2 linked regions of the Homo sapiens genome follow. The protein of the gene in region 2 purifies or fractionates together with the protein of the main gene of each other region. This does not show direct contact. Each region holds a gene or a part of one and is shown on either strand. Other genes may lie near its edges.

Evidence for each region. The genes of interacting proteins can lie anywhere in the genome.
Region 1: the proteins of PGM1 (region 2) and PGM3 fractionate together in Homo sapiens (co-fractionation; one large-scale study listed by BioGRID). This does not show direct contact.

Annotation. Positions count from the first base shown.
Region 1 is NC_000006.12:83,163,417-83,166,819, reverse strand, and holds the end of PGM3 (phosphoacetylglucosamine mutase), read left to right. Parts: 3' UTR 1-353; coding exon of another isoform or gene 354-433; 3' UTR 434-1,947; downstream 1,948-3,403. Other genes in the region: protein DOP1A, read right to left, coding at 2,101-2,160. UniProt on the Homo sapiens protein: Catalyzes the conversion of GlcNAc-6-P into GlcNAc-1-P during the synthesis of uridine diphosphate/UDP-GlcNAc, a sugar nucleotide critical to multiple glycosylation pathways including protein N- and O-glycosylation.
Region 2 is NC_000001.11:63,598,891-63,604,303, forward strand, and holds part of PGM1 (phosphoglucomutase-1), read left to right. Parts: intron 1-5,413. UniProt on the Homo sapiens protein: Catalyzes the reversible isomerization of alpha-D-glucose 1-phosphate to alpha-D-glucose 6-phosphate. The mechanism proceeds via the intermediate compound alpha-D-glucose 1,6-bisphosphate.

The DNA of each region.
Region 1 (3,403 bases), on a different chromosome or scaffold from region 2:
TTCATTGTTTACCTAATAATTTAATATCACTAGTTTCCTAGTGGGTCAAGCAGATGCAAAATCCAGCTTATTTTCTTCTATGTGCTCTCAAGCTTATTGCTTATTTTAAAGTAAAATCCTGAAAAAGGAAAATATTAGGTTGGTGCAAACGTAATTGCGGTTTTTGCATTGTTGAAATTTGCCGTTTTATATTGGAGTACATTCTTAAATAAATGTGGTTATGTTATACATCATTTTAAGCATATTTCTCACTTTTTTTTTGCTAATGACTTATTGCTGTTTATATTTATTTTAGACTATGGAAATGATGTTAGACAAAAATCAAATTTAGCGATTTTCTGAGTTCAAAATAGGTTATAAAGCAGCAGAGACAACACACAACATCAACAATGCATTTGGCCCAGGAACTGCTAATGAACATACAGTGCCGTGATGGCTCAAGAAGTTTTGCAAAGGAGACTAGAGCCTTGAAGATGAGGAGTGCAGTGGCCAGTCATCGGAAATTGATAATGACCAATTGAGAACATCATCGAAGCTGATCCTCTTACAACTATAAGAGAGCTGCCCAAGAACTCAATGTTGACCATTTTATGGTCGTTCGGCATTTGAAGCAAATTGAAAAGGTGAAAAAGCTCAATAAATGGGTGCCTCATGAGCTGAGTGAAAAATAAAAAAATTCGTTGTTTTGAAGTGTCATTTTCTCTATTCTATGCAACAATAATGAATCATTTCTCTATCGGATTGTGATGTGTGCCAAAAGGTGGATTTTATACGACAACTGGCGATGACCAGCTCAGTGGCTGGACTGAAAGAAGCTCCAAAGCACTTCCCAAAGCCAAACTTGCTCCAAAAAATGGTCATGGTCATTGTTTGGTGGTTTGCTGCCAGTCTGATCCACTACAGCTTTCTGAATCCAGGTGAAACCATTACATCTGATAAGTATGCTCAGCAAATCAATGAGATGCACCAAAAACTGCAATGCCTGCAGCCGGCATTGGCCACCAGAAAGGGCCCAATTCTTTTCACGACAACACTGGGCCGCACGTTGCACAACCAACGCTTCGAAAATTGAACTAATTGGGCTATGAAGTTTTGCCTCATCTGCCATATTCACCTGACCTCTTGCCAACAAACTACCACTTCTTTAGGCATCTCAGCAACGTTTTGCAGGGAAATTGCTTCCACAACTAGCAGGACACAGAAAATGCTTTCCAAGAGTTCGTCAAATTTGGAAGCATGGATTTTTATGCTACAGGAGTAAACAAACTTATTTCTCATTGGCAAAAATGTGTTGATTGTAATGGTTCCTATTTTAATTAATAAAGATTTGTGTGAACCTAGTTATAATGACTTAAAATTCATGGTCCCAAACAGCAATTACTTTTGCACCAAACTAAAAATATAAGTTAAAATGGAAGAGTCTAGGAGCAAACCAAGAAAAGATCACCTACTTCATCATCTCTGGTCAAAAACAAACCAAAAAACTTAACAGCTATCACTTAAGTTTGCTTCCTAGCAATTATTTAGCTTCCAGTCTAGATTACAGGATATATAAAACTTTCTTTCTTTCTTTCTTAACTATGACACTGGCACCAATGAGAGTCCTGTGACTGACTTTCACATTTCCACCATTACTCAATTACTGGTACCATACCACCTCTAATCCCCTAAATCAAACTGCAATTCAACAATAAAGGGCGTACAGAGATGACTTTGTCCTGAAGGAAAATGAATATCCTTGTACCCTCTATATAGCTAACTTCCAAATGTAAGAGAACTATGGGGTAACCTTTTGTTTCTATTCCTATCAAGATGAGCCTTTAAGAGAGGGACTTTTATTAAGCTCTTGACCAAGAAGAATACACTTGATTCAGAGTTTCTGATGCTCTTAATCAGAACTATATGTATTGTCTCAATATTAAATAAAGTCAAATGTTTCCATACAAATGATTTCTCCTTTGACTTCACCAGTCCACACTTGAAAAAAGACTTCCTTCCTGTTTACCTCCCTTGTACTTGTTGACATTCAGACCTGGGTTTGTGTCTCAATATTTGGCAACTTTTGCTGCCATATCATAAGCATGAAACAGCCACCCTCACCTGATGCTTGGCCATCTCCAATCCCTCCAAAATCACTGTCTTAAAGTCCTCCTCCTTGTCCTGTGGAAGGAAAGAGGAGAACTCACAGCCTTTGTTCCAGTGAAAAGTATGCTTGGCCATGAAGACCTTGTTTAAGGTGATTTGGATGGGAAGATGCCTTTCAATCAAAATAGTTTTCTTATTCTGTGGGACAAATTTTGGGCAAAAGACTGTCATATTTATTATTTAGATAAAGGAGGGGGGTCTTATAAAAATTCTCATTACTAATGAAAGGCAGGCATAACAGAAAAGGACATGTGCCTGGGGTCATATTTGCTTCTGGATTTGTCATGATTACTTGCCCAAACTCTGAGATATCAAATTGAAAGTACCAAAGTCCTACCCTGAACTCAGGACCCAGCATACATCCTCATCTCTGTCCTTTTATTAAGCCCCTACAGAAGCAACTAGGAATTTAAGTCAAGTTTTCTCATGTAAATTCCTTCCAGCAAAATCTCTTTAATCACTTTCTTCATTCCATTTTTATAGTTATGGAATTCAGTTTAAGAGCTGCTGCCTGATTAGGAGGACTCCAGAAGACTGGAAAATTTCTGAGCACTCAAAGCACACACTGCATACTAGATCTCACCAGACAACCTAGATCACTCCCAAATTGTACAATTTGATTTTGAAATTTGTTGAATGTAAAAGAAAATTTGACAAAAGGTTAATAACAAAGGCCCAATGGTGAGCATACCAGTTTCATTGCTGGTAGGTTCTTGGGCAAAGATCTGTAATAAATTAGCATGATGCATACTGAAAGATAAAAAGTATATAAGACAATATTTTACAAATTTTATTTTCCTACACTTTTTAATGGTATATGTTTTAAGTAAATTCCCACTTTTCCCCTTAAATAATTTCTCTAAGAAGATGCTTTATATTAAAGAGTCATAAAGCCAGTTTAACTCTGAGCACTGTTTTAAAAACTGCAGGTTGTGGGGGTCTTGCAATCTGTACTCAGCATCATCACTGTGAACTACAAAAAGGAAAATATCTCATGTTAAGGGCAAGAACTGTTTTGTGAAACTTTAGATTCGGTTATATAGCTGTACTGGATCAGGATAAGGAACACATTTCTGAATGTAGGTTATAATCAGAAAGTGAAAAATACTTAGAAAATGAATTTTAGCATATATATTTTATTTCATATAGATAAACAGAATGAATGCTAATGATTATTTCCTTTATTCTGATCGAGGTCTAGCTCATTCAATTTCAATGAAATCTGACTCATATTTTACAAATTTAAAATGTATAATCT
Region 2 (5,413 bases):
ACTTCGCCTTATAGTGGAGGAACTCCACTGTCTCCCGCTTGAAGTGAACCACCCTTTTCTGAACTTTCATGAGATCCATCTGCAAACACTGCTGAAGGAACATGTTTCTGGCTATAGCAGTTCACATTTCTTGAAAAGGAAATAAAAGAACACTGAGCAGGAAGGGGAAGGTTTTGAGACTCTTGGGTAGTTGGAGTTAGGTGGAGACACCTTGCTACTTTAACTTTAAACCTTATATCCCTGGGGCAGGGATGACTTGGCAGAGAAACACCTTCAAGTCACTTTTTTTTTTGAGACACTGTCTTGCTCTGTTGCCCTAGGCTGGAGTGCAGTTGCAGGATCTTGGCTCACTGTAACCTCCGCCTCCTGGGTTCAAGTGATTCTTCTGCCTCAGCCTCCTGAGTAGGTGGGACTACAGGCGTGCACCACCATACCCAGCTAATTTTTGTATTTTTAGTAGAAACGAGGTTTCACCATGTTGGCCAGGATGGTCTGGATCTCTTGACCTCATCATCCGCCCGCCTCGGCCTCACAAAGTGCTGGGATTACAGGCGTGAGCCACCACACCCGGCCCAAGTCACTTTTTAACATGCTGTAACCCCCACTTTAAAAAAAAAAAAAACCACTTTTTAATTATGGTGGGGCCGGGCATGGTGGCTTACCGCACTTGAGTGGGTCACTTGAGCCCAGGAGTTCCAAACCAGCTTGGACAACATGGTGAAACCCCTTGTCTACAAAAAATAAAAAAACTTAATCTGGTGTGGTTTCGGGCGCCTGTGGTCTCGGCTACTTGAGACACTGAGGTAGGAGGATCACATTCACCCTGTGAGGTCAAGGCTTCAGTGAGCTGTGATTGCACCACTGCACTCCAGCCTTGGCGATGGCAAGACCCTGTCTCAAAAATAAATAAATAAATAAATATAAAATGAATTATGGTGGGCTTTGAACAATTGTTCTCCCCTTGTTTACACTTTCTGATTTTGAATCAGCACTGAATGCCAGTATGGATAACCTATTGTCCTTTCCATCCAGGAGCATACAATCTTTTGGGGGAGATAAGACAGAAGAAACACATAGACATACAAAGAACAGAATTAGAAAACATGCTGAGCTCAGCGAGAGAGAGAACATTTTGGATTGGGAAAGAAGAGGTGCCTGCACCTAAAACCAATTATGTCTTGAAGAGCGGATAGTGTGCGATAGAAGATGGGGCTACCCTTCAGGAAGGGGACCTGCCGAGAGAAGTGAGAAAGAGAGAATAGGCAGGACTCTTTTTTAGAGCCGGACACTTAGTCACTAAACAATCTTTGTTACATAAAATACTTAAATCAGCTTGCTTGGGACTTTTTCTTTCTTGGCTTCACTAATGCTCTTGGTGAAACATCTTTTTCCTTTTTCTTTTTTAATCAAATCTAATGCTCATGAAATTTTGTAGAAGAAAAAGAAAAACGTTCTCCCTTTCTGAGATAGAGGGTTTGTTTTGTTTTTGTAAACAAGATAACAGGGAAGAGTGCTCTACTGTTTTGGAAAGAGTGACTCATTCAATAAATATTTATTGAGCACCTATTAGGTTCTCGGTACTACGGATACAACAGTGAATTGAACAAAGTTTCTGCTCTACAGAGCTGTGGGGTTCTCGTTGAGCCTGACAGATGATAAACGTGTCAAATGAAGATAAGTTCTCTGAAGAAAAATAAAACCCAGTAAAGGGGACAGCATTAGAGGATGGGCTGCTCTTTTTAGTGCAGCAATTGGGATGTCTGATAAACCTCATGAGAGCAGAGACCTGAATGAAGTGAAGGAGTGAGCCATGCAGATATCCGTGAAAAGACTTCCAGACAGAGGAAGAGTTAGATGGAAAGGATAAACACATATAATCATTTAATGTTATAAAATTATGCCTCAGGTAAATAAATGTAGCATACATTTTATCGTACAAAGGGTCCCAATATACTATGACATTTTGCATATAGATTATAAGTATTATTCTATTATAAATTTATCTTGGGATAATAAGATGTGTAATCAACATTGATCAAATATTTAACAATAATTTTTTTCTCTCTTGGACTCTAGGGTAGGGAAAACTTTTCATCTACCCTCCTAGGTTATATACTGGGGGCTTGCAAATTAAATGTAAAAGACAAATGAGCAACAAAAAGACATTTGTGGGAGTTTACAGAAAAATGTGACAGGAGGCAGTTAGACTTGGGGGCCTATACATCATCTCAGTAGGGGAAGGCGGAAGAGGAGAAGAGCATTTGCTGGAAACCACGACTTTAGGAGAGATAAATCAGCCCTTAAGAGACTAGATAGGAGATGTGGTAGTTTTATGCCAGTGTCTATTTAGTTATGGTAATGAGTCGATCTTCCCTGGTTGTGAAACTCCAGAGTTCCTTTGGGGCACACTGCTTTTAAGACAGATGAAGGAGTTTAGTAAAAAGCCTATTTTTAAATGACTGGCTCAAAATAATTTTTATGTCACAGTGGTGTAGTCTGGACCCCTTTAGACTTTAGAAGAGCTTTCAGCAGATTGATTTGAGTGAGCTACACTTCTAAGAAAGTGAAGCAGGAAAGTTTGAACTGATCCCTTTATTCTCCTCCAAGTTCCCTTGAGGCCCACACAGACATAGCCAGTTATTCTGCTGACTTTGAAGCTGTGCTCACAGTTGGGATCCACCTTTGAAAAATGGCTCCTGAGTGTGTTAAGTAAGTAATGGCTAGCCGAGGGCTTCAGTTGGGAGGACTGCGGAGAAGACTTTTCTCCCCTGGGGTCCTCAAAGGGGAAAGAAATCACAAGGGGGCAGCATAGGGAGTTGTTTGGAAAGGGTGAGAAGGCTGTGCTTAGTGTTGGGATACGCGGATGGATGTAAGCTGGGTTTTGTTTTGTTTAGTTTTTTAAACTTCAGCTGTTGGAAGTCCTCCTTCCCATAGCTTCTCCAAATCACCACTGAGCTGATTCCCCAAGGCATAAAGACAGCCCTGAATTAACACAGTGGGGAATGCTAATTAAGTCATGCCAATAAAGATTTAATCATGAATCAGAAACACTTGGAAAATTATGTTTTCATATTGGAAAGATGTTCTTTTTTTCTCTATGAGTACCCCAAAGTGTTTTTGAAGGATGAAATGCGATAGGTGGTAGGACAGAAATATTTGGTTGACTTGTCCAGTATGCTAATGGTGTTGGAACAGGGACTCCAGTCTTCTGATATTTCATCTGGTTGGTCTTTTCCATAAATAAATATATCCCAGAGCAAGTAGTTCTGGGGATTGTTATAATATGCTGGTTAATAGCATGGAGAAACTGGCTTGGGCAATGTTAAGTAGGAGTTTCAGAGCTTTTAATATATGAGTACTGAGAGTTTGTAAAAGGACCCCAAACAGAAGAATTTTGGGAAATACCAATCTATACCATGCTGGGTTGATAGGACCATCTATATTATACAAGAATCTTCTCAGATTTAAGTTTCTTCTTTTTAAACTGCCATTAAGGGCATGCAGGGAAGGTGAAATTTTGTTTTAATATCCATGTATACCATATGGCTTATTTTGGCAACTAATATATGAATTTGTTCTTGGCTGCTTTGAGTGTGATTGATTCAGCCCAATAAGTATTTTCTAACCAGGTCACCACATGTAGAGTTATGAGGTAAGTGACAAAAGTCCTTCTGACCAAATATTAGTCCTGTATGTTGTACTCCAATGTGCTCACAAGTGAATTGAAATGTTGCTCAAGAGTGAATTGAAATGGCTACTACATTGTGTGAGTCCGGAGGGCTTAATCTGCATGGTGTCATAGCCATTTGGGGGCTAAACCGACAAGTGTGAGGATTGTAAACTGGCAGGGAGCTCAAAATGAGCTGATTGGTGAAACTTCATGGTGATCTCGTAGGTTGCAGCAGAGAACAATACAGGCCCAGTCCTCACATGCTTGGGACTTAAGGTGAAGGTTTGTGTTGGAGGCTAGGTGGGTTACGGACAAGCAGAGAACTGCCACAAGGTGCTGTCAGCACTGGGATGGAGGTGAGCAAAGGAGGCTAGGAAAGCATAAAGGAGGCGTGCCTGGTTCCAGCAGAGGGAGTAGGGAAGTGACAACTAAAACCAGACCTGAAGGTGAAGAGCAGAGAGGAATGTTCCAGGCAGAACCATAGGTGAGAGAATTTGGCATGTTTAAGAGAAAGCTCCCCTCACTGCCCCCCAACTCCGTATTTTTGTTTCATACTCTGCAAGGAGCAACTGCACTAAAAATGTACCTCATGTTTTCTATTTTACAAGTTACTGCCACATGCATGGCCTTATTTCCTGTCTACAACAAACCTTTCAGGTGTCCCAGGTCACAAAGTCAGGAAAAGAGCCTGGGAACTGCCCCCACTCTTCCTAGAATGTAAGGGGTGTTGGGCCATGTTCCAAATACCAGGTTCCCACTGAGAGTGGCTGAGGATAATGCTAATCTGGGCAGTTTTAAGCAGGAAATGAGTATGTGGAGTAGGGAAGTGCGGAGATCTTGCTATGTAAGTCAGAGCTATTTTTCTCACTACTGGGTTGAATTAAAACCAGTTTCTGGAATCACAATGTAAAACAAGAGGCAAAATCCACCTCGAGGCACATTGGTTTTTATTCCTTAAATGTTCCACATAAAAAATGAAAACTGAGTCAGTAGAACAGAATCGTAAGACCAGATGGCTTCCCAGGATCAATGGGGGCAAGCCATTAACTATCATCTAGTTAATAGAGGAAATTGCATTTTACAGTGGGATGGGTTCTAGAGTTCGAGTGGAAGATGAAACTTCAGTCAAAATCATCCTTAAAGTCCCATAGGAAAGTACCACATTGGAGAACAACATGTAACACAACAGGTATGTCTTTAAATAGCAGAAGTGCACTCAAGATACCCATACTTTGAGAAGCACGTGGGGACTAAGACTGAGCAGGGGCCTGTGGTCACTGGGTGAAATGGTGGCAGAATTGCCCATGCTGTTTAAATTTCACTCTTGTCTTCTTTGTCTCCCTGGAAGTTCTATATACAACAGTTACATTTGTGCAAGATAAATACTTGTATGATGTGACTACACTGCACATTCTTGATGCTACTCAGAGTGCACATATGAGAATCATCTCAATCATGATTCATCACCTGCAACTTGGAGCACTTATGCCCTGTGCCTTTCTACCGGGCTTATATTTGAAATCTCAGATTTCCCTGTCAAGGCTTGATCTTACCGCTGCAGATCTGTTTGGACCACTCTGAAAGAGTATACTTTGAGGTGCCTTCCAAAGTGAATTTGATGTACACCACGTAGCCTATAAGGAATTTTTACGATTTTATAGGTTCAATCAGCTGTTGTAACAGACACTCAAAACAACAGTGGATTAAACAAGATGTTTTTCTGTCTTGTGGAATATTGTGGGT